Linked DNA regions of Homo sapiens: region 2 is linked to region 1. The links come from fine-mapping of genetic effects on gene expression. A gene starts in region 1. The other region holds a variant in brackets. All regions are shown on one strand. Distances are between the middles of the regions.

Evidence for each region. PIP is the estimated chance that this variant, and not a neighbour inherited with it, causes the effect.
Region 2: its variant is fine-mapped to the expression of CPEB4 in whole blood (TOPMed, PIP above 0.99).

What each region holds. Positions count from the first base shown.
Region 1 is chr5:173,884,363-173,892,362 of GRCh38, forward strand. It overlaps CPEB4 (cytoplasmic polyadenylation element binding protein 4), which reads left to right and starts at 3,987. Exons shown (of 10, transcript NM_030627.4): 1 at 3,987-6,496. The coding sequence starts at 5,372. RefSeq lists enhancers at 278-527, 3,494-3,733, 5,758-6,259, 6,260-6,759 and a silencer at 6,264-6,558.
Region 2 is chr5:173,771,920-173,782,271 of GRCh38, forward strand. LOC107986482 (a long non-coding RNA gene) reads left to right here and starts at 6,357. Exons shown (of 2, transcript XR_001743004.2): 1 at 6,357-6,522. It overlaps LOC124901138 (a long non-coding RNA gene), which reads right to left and starts at 538. Exons shown (of 2, transcript XR_007059060.1): 1 at 35-538. RefSeq lists enhancers at 1-360, 5,851-7,050, 6,807-7,101, 6,927-7,146, 10,277-10,352 and a cis regulatory region at 10,344-10,352. The variant T/C (reference allele first, on the strand shown) is at 6,303.

The DNA of each region.
Region 1 (8,000 bases):
GGCCTGGACCATATACTTGTCCAGACTTGTCTTCTCACTACAGCTCACTAACCAAAACCAATACCAAGGACACAGTGTCCTTCAATTCAATTACAGAAAGTTCCTGGGCTGCTAACTCTAAAAGGATCAAGTGCTTTAAATATTTCTGCAGGCAATAAGCATGGCTCATGTAATGAGCTTTTTTTGTATGTGTGTCATATTTGTATAATGTGCCCCTGTGTCTTAGAAAAAAAGAACTGAAACAGGGCTGCTGCCTTGTACAACTCCATTGGATGCATTCACATACTAGTCTGTGGTGCCTTATGAAGTTGCACAGTGCACAACCAGGGCAGCCTTGGGTAGTGGTCCTGATTTTTGGTCATTAGACAAGCCTCTGGGGAGCTCGGGTGTGGGCTATTGGGAGAAGGCTGACAATGCATGCTTCAAGGAAAGTGGTGGGAGACATTAGAGCTGGACTGGGGCAGAGTTCACCTTGTGTGATTATGGGGTGAGATTTCTACTGCTTGCCGAGCTTTAAAAGAGGCTGGTGAAGGAGATATTAATGCCCTGCTTCCTGGAAGGCTCTAGGTTCTGGGTGTGGTTGACCTCAAACCCCAGAGGGGGCTGGGCAGTAGCTACCAGGTTACAGGCATTCCCCAGCCTACAACTTCTCTGAAGGTGTGTTAGCCCTCATTGTACTAGACAGGGATAGAGCTTTTTAATTTTTTTTTTTTTTTAACTAGTAGCACCTTAATGTTTGGGCAGAACTTGCTTCCCCTGCAACCCAAAAACTTTCTGGTGAGCACACTTCATGAAAAAGGCTCTCTTCTGCCAGCAGAGTGCTCAAGCCAGCACTCACCTACATCTGTAGATCCTTTTGGAGATCCTAAATGGAGCTGCTGAATTGTTGTCATGGTTACCATGGGAAGTTTCTGAGGCCAGAATGTTTTCAAGGAGCGCAGCCCTGGGCTCTGGGTATCCTGGGTTCCTGAGTAGGCAACTGATGCCAAAAAAAAAAAAGAAAAAAGAAAAGAAAATAATAGATTTCCCCCTTCCTTCTTCCATACTTCCAGTCCCTAAGCAAGAGTCTGATGTCTTAGTGATCATCCTAGCTGCAAACCATCCCAATCTACTGCCCACACCTGACTTAGCCTTAAAAGATTAGCCCGACTTGGCAGCACCTGACTGTGGCCCTGGGCGTCTCCACCTTTTATCAACCAAGACAAGTTCCTGGATTCCCTTGTGCACACAGCTGCTTCTAGGCAAAAGACACTTGTGAAGGAATTCCCTGCATTTAATGTGTTACAAAGGAAGTGACATTTTTGATCACCTCTGATATGGTTTGGCTCTGTGTCCCCACCCAACTCTTATCTCAAATTGTAATCCTTATGTGTAGACAGAGGGAGGTGATTGGATCAAGGGGGCAGTTTCCCCATGCTGTTCTCCTGATAGTGAGTTCTCATGAGCTCTGATGGTTTTATAAGTGTTTGACAGTTCTTCTTTCACTCTGGTCTCTCCTGCCGCCTTGTGAAGAAAGTGCTTGCTTCCCCTTCGCCTTCCGGCATGATTGTAAGTTTCCTGAGGCTTCCCCAGTCACGTGGAACTGTGAGTCAATTAAACCTCTTTCCTTTATAAATTACCCAGTCTTGGGCATTTCTTTATAGCAGTGTGAAAATGGACTAATAAAACTTTTTAGGAGTCCAGCACTTCACATGTATCCCATGTAATTTACAAACTTAGCAAGAGAGGAAATATCATTCACATTTTATCTAGAAGGAACCAAGGGCTTATAGAGGTGATGCCCAGTTTTGCACAGCTAGGAAGCAGCAGAGCTGGGATTCAAATTCAGGGCTGTTTGGTTCCAAAGGTGCTCTTTTTTCCAAGTCATGGCTGCCATTTTAGCCACTGATAATTAGTAGCTCTGAGGGACCCTAAACCATCTTCTGGGCATGGAACATTCATTTGTTCATTCAATAAATGTGTTCTGAGTTTTGAGTCTGCTCTGTGCCAGACCCTCTTCTGGCCACTGGGGACATAAAGATAAATCAGACACAACCTCTGCCCTTAAGAAACTAACCCACTGACAACCAGCAGTAATTAAAAGAGAGCAATCTACAAGACATTAGAGAGAGGGCCAGTCAAGGAAACCATTCTGGCGGAAAAGACACCTGACGGAACCAGCTAAGTTTCCAGGCATGTCCAGTTGTAGGGAATAAACAGCAGGTAAGACCCAATCTCTATGCTCAAAGAATCCATAGTAGAGTTACAGAGACAAGACTCATGCTCATGGCACAATGAAAGAGAATAAAATCACCGATTGAAGGCCCTCAGGTGTTCTACACGGAAGTGATGGAGGATTGACAGACTGAGGCAGAAGTTGAGACCATTAGAGGAAGGCTATGGAAATGAAATGGAAGCCACCTTTGTTCATACTATTTTTCATTAATCTTGGTATCTTTTTTTTCCCTCTAGTTGTGCCAGTTACTTCTGGCTCTACCCTGATTTCTTTGTTCATTTTTCTTCCTGCTAAAGGAAAATACTCACTTATTTAACATATTTAAAGCTGTGCTGAGAGCAAAGCATTATCCTAAGCCCTGATGGTGGTCATAGCGTTGGGAATGTACAAAGATAAACAGGACATTAAAGCCCTTGAGTACCAAACATAATGAAAAGTCTGATATGTGAGCTCCAAACCAAATGGCAAAAGGAAGGAAATAATTAATTCAGACTTGGAAACAGGAGTGAGGGGTGGGGGGTGGGTGACGGGTGGAAGGGGTGGCAGTGGGTTGGGGGGCTGTCACTCAGGGAAGACTTCATTGTTGCTGGTTTGTTCATTCACGTTTTCAGGATTCATTCACTGATGTCTCCTATCTACAATGTCTGCTCCTGAAAGAGCCCACGGTCCAGCACAGGTCTGGAAGACATAAACCATCACAATATAGTGTGAGAAACAAGCACGAGAGGTACACAGGGCCGTGGACGCTTATAAGAGAGAATTCAGAAGATGCTGTTGGTGGCTTTTGAACTGATTCCTAGAAATAAATAGGAATTTACCAAAGGAGAAGAGTGGAAAGGACATGTAAAAAGGCATTGAGAGTGTGTTTGGAGGGGGAAGAGGCACTAAGATATACCACCCATTAGGTAGAAAGGCTTGAATACCAGACTAACAAGTTTGGCCTTTATCTTCGAAATAATGGGCAACCATAGAAGAAATCGGAGCATGTGAGGGTCAAGATAAAATTTTAGTTTTGGAATTTTCCCTCTGGTATTGCGTGTAAGGTGTACTAGATCGGGATGATACGGGGGCATAGCCACAGACGCCTCAGCTGCATCTCTGCACCTGGGAGACTGCACCAGATGCGAGCCTAGCAGAATGGGAGAGTGGGAGGTGCGGGTGAGCGAATGGAAGGTTAAGGGAGAGTCCCTCGTGAGGTCTACATTCTGGGCAAGGGCAAACGCAGTTCTAGGCACCGCACAGCTGCTGGCAAGACCCGCCTCCCCTTCCAGATCCCTCTGGGGCGGAGCTCGGGCCAGAGCACGTGATGCTTGGAGCACCACCTTTACTGTGGGCACCCTTCTCATTCATCCGCGGTTTCACGGGCCGCCACTTCGATCTCCAACACCTTGACCGTATGCCTTCGTGAGCGAGGAATCCGTTCTCCTTGACACGTCCCTATTGCTCCTCCTGCAAAGCCCAGTTAGGGAAGAGAAATATCAAAGGAGTCCCTTGCCCACACAAAAGATGGCGACCTGCTGCGCTCACTCTGGGTGGGGGAAGCGGGTTCCAGGCGCCGGGCCTCACTAGGCGAGGCGCAGACGGAAGAGGCGTCTCTGGAGGTAACTTTTCGACCTTCCTGGGAGTAGCTCTGAAGCGAGGGGGCGTGGCCTCGCCTGAGTTCTAACAGATGATTGGTCTTCCGGCAGGTAGGTGGGGAATGAGTGCTACCCCCACCCCTCCCTCTTCGAACCGGAAGTGTCTCTGGGTCTTTCCAGCTGGTTGTCATTTCACTCGGCTCGGTCCTGAGGAGAAGGACTCAGCCGCGGCTGCGGGACCCGGGCACCGGGAGGCGGTGGCGGCGGCGGCGGCGGCAGCAGCGGCGACAGCAGAGGAGGAAGAGGAGGAAGAAGGAAAGAAAAAGAAGAACCAGGAGGAGTCCTCAACAACGACAGCGGGGACTGCGGGACCAGGGTAAAGCGGCGACGGCGGCGACGGCCCAGCAACCGTGAGGAGAAACAAAAGCCTTCTAAATTATAGTTTAAAAAAAAATTCTGGGGGAAAAGAGAGAGAAAGCCGAGGGGGGAGGCCCTTCTCCTTTAAAATAACTACGGTAGTGGGTTTTTCCTTTTTTTCCTCTTTTTTCCCTCTCTGCGGAGAATCGAACTGAGGGAACTGAACAAACCGCCCCTGGGTCCCATGAGGGAAAAAAACCCCGGAGCCGCAGAGAGGGGAAGAGGCAGAAACCGCAGGACCTTCCAGGTCGCCCCCTCGGTCCCCGCACCCCCAGGCCGCCCGCTCACCCTCGTCGAGTCTCGCTAATCCCTCCTGATCGCGACCCCCGCAAGAGGGAGAAACGGGTGTTTCCAACCCCTTTCATGGGGGAGAGGAAGCCGCGGGGAGCCCAGGAACAGCGACCGCAGCAAGATCTGCACCCGGAGCCTCAGGAACAGCCCCAGAGGCCAAAACTGCACCCTGCGAAAGAGCAGAAAACAGGACCAGGAACAGCAGAAACCTCCCTGCAATCATCTTTCCATTAGTCAATGCTGATTTCCTCTCCCGAAACCAGGAATTCACTTCCCACCCCAGATAACCTAATATAATCTATATATATAAATATATAATATATAATGTTCTTAAATTATTCCTGATTTTTTTTTAACCAAGCTGCCAAGAAAAGAACGTATTCCCCTCTTAGTCCTATTCTAATTTTTATGTGAGTGAATCTAAACTGCTGAGGAAAACCATATGTGATTGTTAAATTATATATATCTATATTTTTACTCCGCGCAAGGCTTATTCTTCTACATCCATAGATGCTTGAGAAGCTCTGTTTTTGTCATTCATGTACATTTTCCTTTGGAAAAAGAAAGCGCCTATTTTACTAACCAAAGACTTGATTTTTACCCTCTTCATTTTTATTCCCTCCTAAAAATAAGCCCAATTGGATCCAAGTCAATGTTTTAAGAGATTTTTTTAAGAGTTGTTTTTTCTTTCAGAGACCAGAATTCCAAATCAGAACAATTTAAGGTGATAAGCTGCGATCTTTGAGCTAGCTATAAATAAGACATTTCAAGCAAGCAAGCAAACAACTTAAATTTGGGGTAGAGGAAAAAAAAGGCGTGAGACATCAGGTTGTCATTTTTTATTGTGAGATTCTGCTCCTAAAGATAATAAATGGGGGATTACGGGTTTGGAGTGCTAGTGCAAAGCAATACTGGGAATAAATCTGCTTTTCCAGTCAGATTCCATCCACATCTGCAGCCTCCACACCATCACCAAAATGCCACCCCCAGCCCTGCTGCTTTTATAAATAATAACACAGCTGCCAATGGCAGCAGTGCTGGGTCAGCTTGGCTTTTTCCTGCTCCAGCTACCCATAACATTCAGGATGAGATCTTGGGGTCAGAAAAAGCAAAAAGTCAGCAACAGGAACAGCAAGACCCCTTAGAAAAGCAGCAGCTTTCCCCAAGTCCAGGTCAGGAAGCTGGAATACTGCCTGAAACAGAGAAGGCAAAATCAGAAGAAAATCAAGGGGACAATTCTTCGGAAAATGGCAATGGGAAGGAGAAAATAAGGATCGAATCTCCAGTGTTGACAGGGTTTGATTATCAAGAAGCCACTGGGCTAGGTACTTCAACCCAACCCTTGACATCTAGCGCATCGTCTCTTACTGGTTTCAGTAACTGGTCAGCAGCGATAGCGCCTTCCTCCTCTACAATAATCAATGAAGATGCAAGTTTCTTTCACCAGGGAGGGGTCCCTGCTGCTTCGGCTAATAACGGTGCTCTGTTGTTTCAAAATTTCCCCCATCATGTCAGCCCTGGCTTTGGAGGCAGCTTCTCTCCTCAGATCGGGCCTCTCTCACAGCACCACCCACATCACCCTCATTTCCAGCATCATCACAGCCAGCATCAGCAGCAAAGGAGGTCTCCTGCCAGTCCCCATCCCCCACCCTTCACACATAGAAATGCTGCTTTTAACCAGCTGCCTCATTTGGCGAATAATCTTAACAAACCCCCCTCTCCGTGGAGCAGCTACCAGAGTCCGTCACCAACACCCTCCTCTTCCTGGAGCCCGGGCGGTGGTGGATATGGTGGCTGGGGAGGTTCCCAAGGCCGAGATCACCGCAGAGGGCTGAATGGTGGAATAACGCCCCTGAACTCCATCTCGCCTTTGAAGAAAAATTTTGCAAGCAATCATATTCAGCTCCAGAAGTATGCTCGCCCCAGCTCTGCCTTTGCACCTAAATCCTGGATGGAAGATAGCTTGAACAGGGCTGACAACATTTTTCCTTTTCCGGTAAGATTATGTTCCATTAATAGATTAGGATGAATAAGGAAATAGCATGGTGTAATATCTATGTAACTAGAGTTTGAAGTGCCCGTATTCACATCAGAGCTTTTCTTAGAGAGAAAATGAATCAATAACCAGACTTTATTTTAGCAGGAGTGTAATTGGAACAAAATATTCAGCTGTTTCTTTGGCAGTTTTCTAAATTGTAGCCTTAATCTTGTCATAGATAATTATGAATACCTGGTAGCTGGTGATGTAGTAATTATTAACTATAATACCTTTCTTGCCTGACATGAGAATCAGGGTCAGTTTTTTCCCTATTTAGATGAGAATAAATAATATATAGATATAAATATATTTCATTGCAGAAACTATTGAATGTTTTCTGAAGTAACTATATAACTAAACAAATTTCTTTTGACACTATAAGGTAGTGATTCACTGAAAACCAGCTATTGAATTACAGTTTTCTCACTGGTTGGTTGCATTTTAAACCTGGAAACTCTCTGAACCTTGTAGGTCTGAACAGCCTGAATTGATGGACTTGGCAATTCCTCTTAAACCTCTGCAAATTTTGGCCTACCTTTCATCAGTAAGGACTATCTAGTGAGAGAAATGATCTAAATGTTTTCTTCATCCCCATTTATTTTTGAACACTGTGAAACTGTTCATCTCAGAGTGACTCTTTATGCCTTTCACCCGTTTGTTTATTTTCCAATGTTAACATTGAAGATGTAGATAATTAAACCATTCCTAAAAATAGATCCAGGCAAAGATCATTTGTCTTTCTTGCTACCAGAATATCTTTATTCTGGCAAGAGTCATTGATGTTTTTGAATTAATGAGCAGCAAGTTAGGTTGATATGAACTAGATAAAGGGAATTTCATAGGTGGTTGAACGTCAGATGCTCCACTAAATGTATATACTTTGAGGGTATGATTATATGTGTTTAGGAAATTTATAAGGGGTAAGAATCTAGCATTGAATCTAGTTTTCCCAACAACCTCACAAGATGAGTTCTGTTATTATCCCCATTTTACAGATGCAGAAATTGAATATGAGAAATATATAATAACTTAGCCAAGGGTACACAGCTGGTCAGAGTACAAATTCTAAGTTAAAAAAAAAAACAAACCCAAGGATTGAAAATATGTATACATACATGTGTGCACGTACACATGTGCTACAGCTAGAGGGTTACTTTAGAAATATTTCTGCAAAGGCTGAAACAGATTATAGAATCATTGCACTGTTCCCAAATACGATGTTAGCCCTAGCAGAATTATCTGTTTTAATTAGTAATTGACTGAGAGGGAGGGGAAGTTTGCTAAGAGAACCCTATGTCATTCCTTTCCTAAGGATTCAGGTGCAGTGCATCTTAAAATATGTGGGTATATTTAGTTTTCGACTTCTAAAAACGATTTTTTTTTTTTTTTGCCTATCAAAAAGCTGTTGGCATTTGCTTTAAAGGGTTTCAGTTGTTAAAACCAAAGATCAATTACTGTGCTT
Region 2 (10,352 bases), 110 kb before region 1:
GGAAACTGACGTTCCAGGACAGTAAAAAACTTACCTCGGGTTGCTGGGCTTCAGACCCAGGCCGAATGGCTCCGGGACGGTGGCTGGTATCTCCCTGTGTGCTGGGAGGAGAGCAGCTGCAGAGAAGCCCCTGGGATTGTGCTGCCTGACCCTGGGTTCTCTTTGGACACTGGGTGCCTGTCCAGAGAAGTCCTCTGAAAAGCAGAGCTGCCCAAAATCAGGAAGCCCTGAGACAGGGTCTGCCACTGGCCTTGGCTTGGGGCAGCAGAAAATAATACTGTTCAAGGAATCAGGACGTGTGAGTTGCTCTGCCACTAACTGGCTGTGTGACCTTCACAGTCACTTTCCCTCTCTGAGCCTCATTTGCCTATGTAAGATGAAGATTCTAAAATTATATGGGGCTACGGAATTCTATTATCTTAGGACTCCAGCTACCCTTGAAAATAGCCATTGCCCAGTTGATACAGCACCTCCTTCCTGCCCTCCTTTCTGCCCCACCTCCTGCCTTCTGCCCCGGCTGGCCCATATCTGTTGCAATGGAGCACTTTAATTTCCTCCTTTGGTTTCATAATTCAAGGACAGCACCATCTGCCACATTAAATCCACGCTCTCTGCTTGCCTCCTTCTCAAAACAAGGGCTGGATGAAGGCTTCATCCGGTTTATTTCATGGATGAGCAAGAGCTGGCAAAACCAAATGGGGACAGCTTTGGCCTTGCAAGCTGCGTTCATCCCCTAATCTTCTGGTAGGGCCCCAGAGCTCGTTCTGTCGCCCCCACTGCCTGCCCCAGCCAAAACATGATGCTGCTGCTGATAGATGACGTTTACAGAGGCCTTTCTGAGTCAGGCATTTTCTTAAGTGCTGTAGATTCATTTATTTACTTCCCACTACATCTCTGTGATGAAGGGGCTGATCATAATAGCCCCACTTTAGAGATGCAGAGACTGAGGCCTGGGAGGCTTCAGAAATTTGCCAAAGGCCCACACAGCCAGCCAACAACAGAGACTGAATGTGAACTGGCTGCGGAAATGAACACAGACACACAAAGATAGCCAGCCTGAAAGAAGCTGGACTTCACAGCGGAGCTCTCTGACTGCTGATCTTTGAAAAGTTGAGGCTGGGCACAATGGCTCATGCCTGTAACTCCAGCACTTTGGGAGGCTGAGATAGGAGGATTGCTTGAGCCCAGGAGTTCAAGACTAGCCTGGGGAACATAGAAAGACTCAGAGACCCTGTCTCTACAAATATATATATATATTTTTAAATTAGCCAGGCATGGTAGTGCACACCTGTAGTCCCAACTACTCAGGAGGCTGAGACAGGAAGATCGCTTGAGCCCAGGAGGTTGAGGCTGCAGTGAGCTATGATTGCACCACTGTACTCCAGCCTGGTGGATAGTGAGACCTTGTCTCAAAAAATAAAAAAGTAAAGTAAAAGAAAAGTTGAGGTCATATTTCTTTATTCAACATTCCTGCAACACGTTTTACTGAGCAGCCTGCCATATGCCATGTGCCACTCTCCATGCAGGGGAGCGCCCCACGAGCAAGGCCCATGGGGGTCGCTCTCATAGGACCGATCTAGTCCACAAGACAGGCACCAAGTCAGCAACTGAACAAGCAGGCAGGATCATTTTAGGCTGTGACAAGGTGTCATGAAGGAAATACAGTGGGGGGCATGAGGCCGGGTGCGGTGGCTCAAGCCTGTAATCCCAGCACTTTGGGAGGCCAAGGTGGGTGGATCACGAGGTCAGGAGATTGAGACCATCCTGGCTAACACGGTGAAACCCCGTCTGTACTAAAAGTACAAAAAAAATTAGCCGGACGTGGTGGCGGGCGCCTGTAGTCCCAGCTACTCGGGAGGCTGAGGCAGGAGAATGGCGTGAACCCAGGAGGCGGAGCTTGCAGTGATCCGAGATTGCGCCACTGCACTCCAGCCTGGGTGACAGAGTGAGACTCTGTCTCAAAGAAGAAAAAAAAAAGAGAGAAAGAAACGGGCGATGCTCAGGGAAGCCTTCCTGAACGGGAGGGTCTCTGGGCTGAGGGGATTGAGGCTTGCTGTAGGCTTTCCCGACCTTGGCACTGTGGACATTGTGGATCCCATAACTCTTTGTTGGGGGGTTGGCCTATGCATTATAAGATGTTTAGCCGCATCCTTGGCCTTTACCCACGAGATGCCAGTAGCATCCCATTTTCCAGGGTGACAACCAAAAAATGCCCCCAGACATTGCCAGGTGTTCCCCTGGAGGGCAAAACCACCTCCAGTTGAGAACCCCTGAGTCACGAGACTGGCAAAGCGGACAACATGGGATGAAGGAATAGCCAGGCGGGCTGCAAAGCTGCTCAAAGTGTTTGAGATCCAGGAAGAAGGCTGGTTTGGCTGGAGGGCAATGGGCCAGGGAAGGATGGCAGGATCATCATGGCCACTTGCTCTGTGAAACTCTCCAGAAAGTACTCAGCAACATTCATGGAGTCCCTTTGCTGTGCCAGGCATTGTACTAGCTGTGCCCAAGGACACAGCACATGCTCCAAGGTGATAATAGTCGGGTGGCTGGATAAGACACAACAGCTGTCAGCCTGATGCTATCCATGGTAACAGAATATTCTGGACCAAAAGCAAGCAGAGAGGCACTCCAAGGGCAGTGGCCATGGTGAAAAAGATGCTGGAGAAGGCAATGTCTGGGCCCCTTTTTGAAGAGGAGAGAGCAGGCAGCTGTGGCCTTCACCTTCCCAGCTCCCGCCCCTCCATTGCCCATAGCAACTGCCTGTCCCCATGCCCAGCTGCACGCGGTTTTGGTGGAATTTCTAATTATGGTGCCCTGCTAGACTGGCCAAGGGGCTGGCATGAGACCCAAGCTTGGCCACCATATACTTTCTTCCTGGAATCAGGATATTGGCCAGAGAAACCCAAGGGCATTGAATGGCTAGAGTCAGTTTTTCTAATGGAAGTGGAACAAAGCATGTTCTTTTGTTCTGGCATAATTTTTTGACTATCTCAACTCCCTAAGAAGCAATTGTTTCTCTCTCTTCCAAGGCCTATTTTTCAGCTTTTCCTTCCAAAGCCCTTTCAATACACCTCTATTTAATTCACCAGAGTGGGTTTCCAATGTTTGAAACCCCAATTAAAATAGAAACAGTATAATGTGAACAGGGATAAGAGAGTGTAGGTTTCTGATTCACTGTGCTCACCACTTTACATTAAATAAGCTGTGTGTCCCTCTCTCTCCTAGTTACAAGCAGGATGCTTTGCCAAGGCCTGACTGTGTCTTTTTCTCTTCATATCCACAGTGCCCAGCTCAGGGTTGACTTCTCCTCTGCACCTGCCATGGTTTATAATTATGCATTTCTTTGTGGGATAATTTGTTTAATGTCATCTACTCTATGTTGGAAGTCCCATGAAAATAGAATGCATGGAGCCCAATTTATTAGGAAGACCAACTGTCCCAATTTGCCTGGGGTGGGGTGGGGGATTTCTGAGACATGGCTTCCAGGGCTAAAATCAGGAAAGTCCAGGGCAAATTGGAGCAGTGCCCACCCTACCAGTGTCTGGCATATAGGAAGTCTTCAAGCACCAGTTGTCCCGGTCACTCAAGGAATATATGTTGAGATGAACGGAGGCAAACTGCAGCACAGCAGAAGGCATATTCTTTCATGCAAAAACATTTCTTCATGCCTGCTGTGTGCCAGGTAACCAGCTTGTCAGAAGCAGAAGATTCAAGGAAGGAAATCCCAGCAGCCAGGGCTGCCATAGGATTGTAGGTTGAAATCACACTGCATGAGGTCTTGAGCATCAGGCTAAGAAACCAGCATGCAGCACCCAGATGAGGCAGGTCCCCTCTGATTTAGGAGAAGGGAGGAGATATGAAAACATAGTAATTTAGGAATGATGCATTGGCAGCGCCTCCCAGGGACTCTGATAAGGAAACCACTGCAGGAGGAATCCGCAGGGGCTACTGAAACAGGGGACAGAACCTGAAGTGAGCGGGTTATTTGGTTGTTTCTTTCCAAATTCTGCACTGGGCAGAGAGAGGGTTTAGCAACTTCCTTTTTCGTCTCAAGCACAGCCATCTGCTCAGTTCAACAAGCAGAAAATCCACCCCCAGGAAACGTGAATTTATTTGTGGGTATGTGATGGATCCTACGTCTTTACTCCTTAGGAAGATTCAGCTACACAACCCATGCCACGGGGCCATCCTCTTGATAGGTTTCAACTCTGTTGCTGAGCGGATGAGAACACGTTTATGTGCAGGTGCTATCGACAGTGTTTTTGTCTGCCTGCCCCCAACCCAGTCTTATATTGAAAGTGAACCCCCAGGCAATGGTATTAGTAGGGAGGCCTTTGGGAGGTGATTAGGTCATGAGGGTGGAGCCCCATTGATGAGATTAGTGCCCTTAGAAAGAGACCCCAGAGAGCTGCCTGGCCTCTTCTGCCATGTGAGGGCACAGCAAGAAGGAGCTGTCTGTGAACCACAAAGCAGACCCTCGTCAGATTCCAAACTGCCAGTGACTGATCTTCAACTTCCAGCCTCCAAAACTGCGAGGAATAAATTTCTGTAGTTTATAAGCCACCCAGTCTATGGTATTCTGCTATGGCAGCCTGGAATGACCAAGACAGCAGCCAAATGAACTTTTGGATGGGGCCTCGCAGACTTTCAGGGCCTGGAGATCCTCTGAGAAGAACATCTCTCTAATTCGGCTCCCTCATTTCAAAGCAGGGAAAGAATCTTATTTGCATGATATAATAAGCAAGAAGCTGGGGCTGGGCTGCTCTCTCTTTAACTCTTCTCAATAAAGAACTGAATCATACAATAGGGAGCCCCTTGCCCCTGGGGAGTAGGGGAAAGTGAAAAGACAGGGAAACAAATAGATTGCATCCTGTGGTAAGAGAGTTTTTCTCCTGTGAAAATTCTCTTTCAATCCTTGTCATTACACCAAGAAGAAAATCTCACTTTGGTACTAATAGGTCTTTAACGCCTCCCTCAAACTTTAACACCTCTCCAAATCTCCCTTTCAAATGGGAATCAAACAGGCCTCAAGCCCAGAGTCTTCCACAGGCAACCCTATTCCTCTAGAATTAAATATTCTAGAGTTTCATAATATCATTTTATTTTCGTGGTATATCTTTTTCTGGATAGCTTCTATTTGTAGCAGGTGGGATTGGCTTTCCATCTATGGTAGTAAGTTTTCCTTTTGAAGAAATGTATTTTAAGTTTTAAATGGGAGACAAGTTGAGGAAAAATAATGAGGGAAAGACTAGACCACATGATATGCAGTGATAGCAAAATTATCGGTAGACCTTAAACCATTGAAGTTTGAAAGCAGGAGTGGAGGACAGAGGGATGGGCTGGTGACCCTGGGGCCGCTCACCAGAGCAGGCTCCACACATGTTATTAAGCAAATGTCAAGCCTGAAATTTAAAAGGTGGCTCTTTAAATGAATTAGAGTCAGAGACACTGGAAAGTGCCAGGAAATTCTTCACGTGACCTTGAACAGACAGAAACCTCCTGAGATGAGAGAGTACAGGTCTATTATTTGACTTGGCAAAGGACCCTTCTGGTGGATAGGGGTGTCCCTTCTCTAAAAAATGATGTGCAGTGCATTTCTGTATGTTTCCTGTGAATAACCACTGAGGCACCAGCAAGGGGAGTCATGGGGGTAGAAGGACAGCCGCGGTAGCCATCACCCATTGAGACCCTGCTCAGCTCTGCCTGTGCTGCCAGGAGCCTCACCTCACCCTTTCAACAGCCCTTTCATGCTGATGCTAGTAACCTCTGACGCTTATGGAGCACACACTGTATGCCAACATCTCTTCAAAGCCTTCATTCATTCATTTAATCCAAACAGTAACCCAAGGAGACCATCATTATTACTCCCACTTTACAGATCAGAAAACTGAGGTGGAAAGGGTAGGTCACAGCTGGTGGTCAGTGGTAGAGGCAGATTCAAGCCCAGACATTCCGGCTCCAGAGCCTACACTCCAACTTTGTGGAGGGGAGTGACAGAGGAGGATGCACAGCTACTAAATTGTAAAGTCAGCAAAACCATCCTCCCCAAGGTGGCATTTCCCCCAAAAGCAAGCTATTGCATTAATTCAACAAATGTTTGTTGAGCATCTACTATGTGGGAAAGACCCTCTTTTTGTTCCAGTCATCGGCAGCTGGGGGCTCTAGGTCCATCCCTGCCCTCCCCGAAGCAGGAGAGTAACCTTGTAGACTTCCTGTTAGGGCCCTGGGGTCTCTGGGTGAATTTGATGCAGACTCAGCCATTAGCCTGGCTGGGCCACAAAATCAGGAAGCTTAGACCAGTG[T/C]TGTGGAACCTTGATTCCTGTCCCAGTTTTGTCATTTCCTGCCTCAGCCTCTTTGCAACTCCCGGCCTCAATTGCCTCACCTCCAAAATGGAGGTCTTAATGACAATGGTCTGGCTTCACTCACAGGGTTATCGTGAAAATCAAAAGAGATTGCTCAGGGAAAAGCCTCTTCAAACTGGAGCTCCAGGTGATGGTTGTCATCTGTCGATGTTGCTCTCTGGTGAGTTCTTTAAAAATGGAAATTACTGTTTGTTTCTAATTACAAAAGTTCAGGAGTTACAGAATAGCACACAGATTTTTAAACACGGTTTATTACCCCACTACTTGTTAATAATCTCTACTAACCTGTTGGTGTATTTCCTTCCGGATACATAAAGAGAGTTGAACCCTGAACGATATGGAAGTTGGGGTGTTGACCCCCCTCAGAGTTGAAAATCTGCATACAACTTTTGACTCCCCAAAACACTACAGATAGCCTACTGTTGACTGCAAGCCTTGCTGAGAACATAAACAGTCAATTAACATATTTTGTATGTTATATGTATTGTATACTGTATTCTTACAATAAAGGAAGCTAGAGTAAAGAAAATGTTATTGAGAAAATCATAAGGAAGAGAAAGTATATTTACGTTCACTACGCAGAAGTGACTCAGCATAAAGGTCTTCACCCTTGTCATCATCAACTCGAGTAGGCTGAGGAGGAGGAAAAGGAGTGGTTGGTCCTGCTCTCTCAGGGGTGGCAGAGGTGGAAGAAAAGTCACCTGTAAGTGGACCTGTGCAGTTCAAACCTGTGTTGTTTGAAGGTCAACTGTATGATGATTGCCTACATAGAACCCGGTAGCTTTCTACAGCACTTGGAAGGAAATCCACACTCCTTATCAACACTTCACCTTGACTTTCAGTCTGTGTGATCTGGCCCTGCTTGCCTCTCCTACCTCTTCTCTCTCTACTCACACATTATTTCTCTTTCTTTTTCCCTCCTAATACACCAATGGCATTTCCCCTCAAGGCCTTCGCCTCTTTGCCTGAAATGCTCTGGATTTCATGACTCTGGAAATCATGACTGGATTTTTTTTTTTTCAGCGTGCAAGTCATGGCCGAAATGTCACCTCCTTGGATAGTCCCTCCATCTTCACGCACACTAAACTAGTCCATCTTGCATGCCTTTCTTCATGGCATTGTGTGCCATGCTCAGAAATTATCTTGTGTATTCTTAAGTCCATATATGTATTACCTGTCTTTCCCTAAACAACTTCCCACCCTGAGCTTGTTCCTGTCCATATTCCCAGTACCCAGAATGGTGCTTGGCATACAGCACATCTTCATTACATAGTTAATAAGTGAATGAATTGGATTAATGTACTTGTGAGCTAGGATCATACTATATTTAATGTTTTTATAACTGATTTTTCCCTGCTATGGTGTGACCACCTTGACTTTGAATGGAAGTGTAGCATTCCCTTGTATGGGTGGATCAAAATTTCTTTTCTTTTCTTTTTTTTTTTTTTTTTGAGACTGAATCTCACTCTATCACCCAGGCTGGAGTGCAGTGGCACGATCTCTGCTCACTGCAACCTCTGCCTCCCAGGTTCAAGTGATTCTTGTGCCTCAGCCTCCTGAATAGCTGGGATTATAGGCACACACCATCATGCCAGGCTAATTTTTGTAGAGACGGGGTTTCACCATATTGGCTCGAATTCCTGACCTCAGGTGATCTGCCTGCCTCAGCCTCCAAAAGTGCTGGGATTACAGCCATGAGCCACTGCACCCGGCCTGGATCATAATTTTTAACTAAGCCCCCATTACTGACTAGGTGGGACATTTCTGATTCTTGTGTTTGTAAGTTAATACTACATTCTACAGTGACCATCTTTGTCCATACACACATTTTCTCATCTCTCCATGACCACTTCCCTTGGATTAATTCCTAGCAGTAAAATTGAGGGAACAAAGGGTTACATCGTTTTAATCCTCTTCATATATATTACCATGGTCTGCAGAAAGGTTGTATCATCTCTGAGTTTGCTGTAATGGCCCTTAGCTTGTGGGCTTCTCAGCAGAATGCTCTGAAGACCATGGAAATATCATTGTCTCCTCTTACCCAGGAGAGTAAAGGTTGAGGCCCTCCAGCAAGACAGATCATGCCCACTTACTCTGCAGAAACTTCCTCCCTTTCCAATAACAGGAACAACTCCTAGCTCTGCTGCTCAGGCCCAATGTGTGATACACAGGAATCCCCTAAGCAGTGATGTTCCGAAGTTAGAAGTCACCCCAGCCAGGCTGAAGAGCTTATCATTCAAGAAGCTAATACCAGCCAGCCAGACTGTGCCAGCTCAACCTTCCTCCTTTTGTTCTCCAAAGCACACCTTGCCTTGGTTACCTGACCTTCACTAAGCTCAGCCCATATTTGGCCAAACCATCTGGGCCTCTGCTCAACGTGCCTTTGCTTTGTTACCTGTTCCACATCATTTTTCAAGGTCTAGCTTTACTCCCCACCTAAACTTTCACCTTCTAGAAAGCCCCTTTTCATAGTACAGCTCTCAGGGAGATCTCCCAGCCCAGAACTGCCCATAACTCTGATTACCAGCCTCTCCGTCAGCATTTGCCCATCTAACCACTTTGTGTTGTTTATATACCTTTGTGCATGAGTAACTCTAAATTTTCAACTGAGTGTTTTTCTCTCTCTGGGAGCTCACGCATAGTGTGACAGTCAGAACCTTTGAGATAATCAGGGCTGGGATTGAGCCTCAACTCTGCCACCCACTAGTTCTGTGCATTTGGGCAGCACAGTCAACTCTACTGAGCCTCAGTTGCTCCATCTATAAAATGGGGGTTACTATAGCACGAATTTGAAAAGATTGCTCCAAGAATTCGATGCATGCAAAATACTTAGCATAGTGCCTCCCACAGAATGATTATTAAAAAATCAGCAGCAGGCCGGGAGCGGTGGCTCATGCCTGCAATCCCAGCACTTTGGGAGGCTGAGGCGGGCAGATTGCCTAAGCTCAGGAGTTCGTGATTAGCTTTGGCAACATGGTGAAACATCGTCTCTACTAAAATACAAAAAATTAGCCACCCGAGATGGTGTGCCCCTGTGGTCCCAGCTATTTGGGAGGCTGAGGCAGGAGAATTGCTTGAACCCGAGACGTGGAGCTTGCAGTGAGCCGAGATGGCACCACTGCACTTCAGCCTCGGTGACAGAGTGAAACTCCGTCTTAAAAAACAAAAACAAAAACAAAAAACAGCAACAAAATGGGGATATTCATCCTAATTTTGTTTTTCTAGACCTCTACAAAGGCTGAGCCAGTAATGTGTACAATGTTAAAAGAAATATTTGTGGAATGGAATGAGCGGATGTTGTGTAAACATTCATTGTGCGTGTACGTATTTAGTTCTACTAACCAGAACACTGGGGGACCAGAACCAGTTACCCCAGTGTCTAGAGAGGAGGAAAGAAATCTCTCTCCTTAGCTGAAACCTTAGTAAGAGCTCAGTCCAGAGCTTGCTTGAAAGTAAAGATATGTCATCCAATTTAATCCCCACACCAACCTTACAGAAAGATCTTTTTATATCCTTATGCTAAGAAGACCTACCACTGACTGTGCCAGATCTGTGCAAGATGCTTTTGAAAAATGTAATTCCCTTTAAGCCCTCACACTATCTCAATGAGACAAGAATTATTATTACTGAAGAGGAAATGGGGTCAGAAAGTTTAAGTGAACTGCTCAAGGGCAAATGGGTAGTAAGAGAAGAAAGAAGATGAGTCAGGATTGAACAGAGGCTTACTCTGTTCAAATAAATAAAATTAAATTAAAACGGTTGCCTCTTCACCAACTGATTCCCTGACATTCTCACATGCGTTCAGTTGGTGCTTAATAGGAACTGAATTGAAATCTCATGGTGATCTGTTAGAGACTTGGATCTTCTAATAGATGCTTCAAAGGGAGCAGTTTCTATTTCCGGTGCCCACGGAGATCTCGAGGGAGATTTCTCCCCACCCCTGCTCTGACGTCACGATGTTCTTGTTTTTCTCTGGGCCCTGTGACTCAG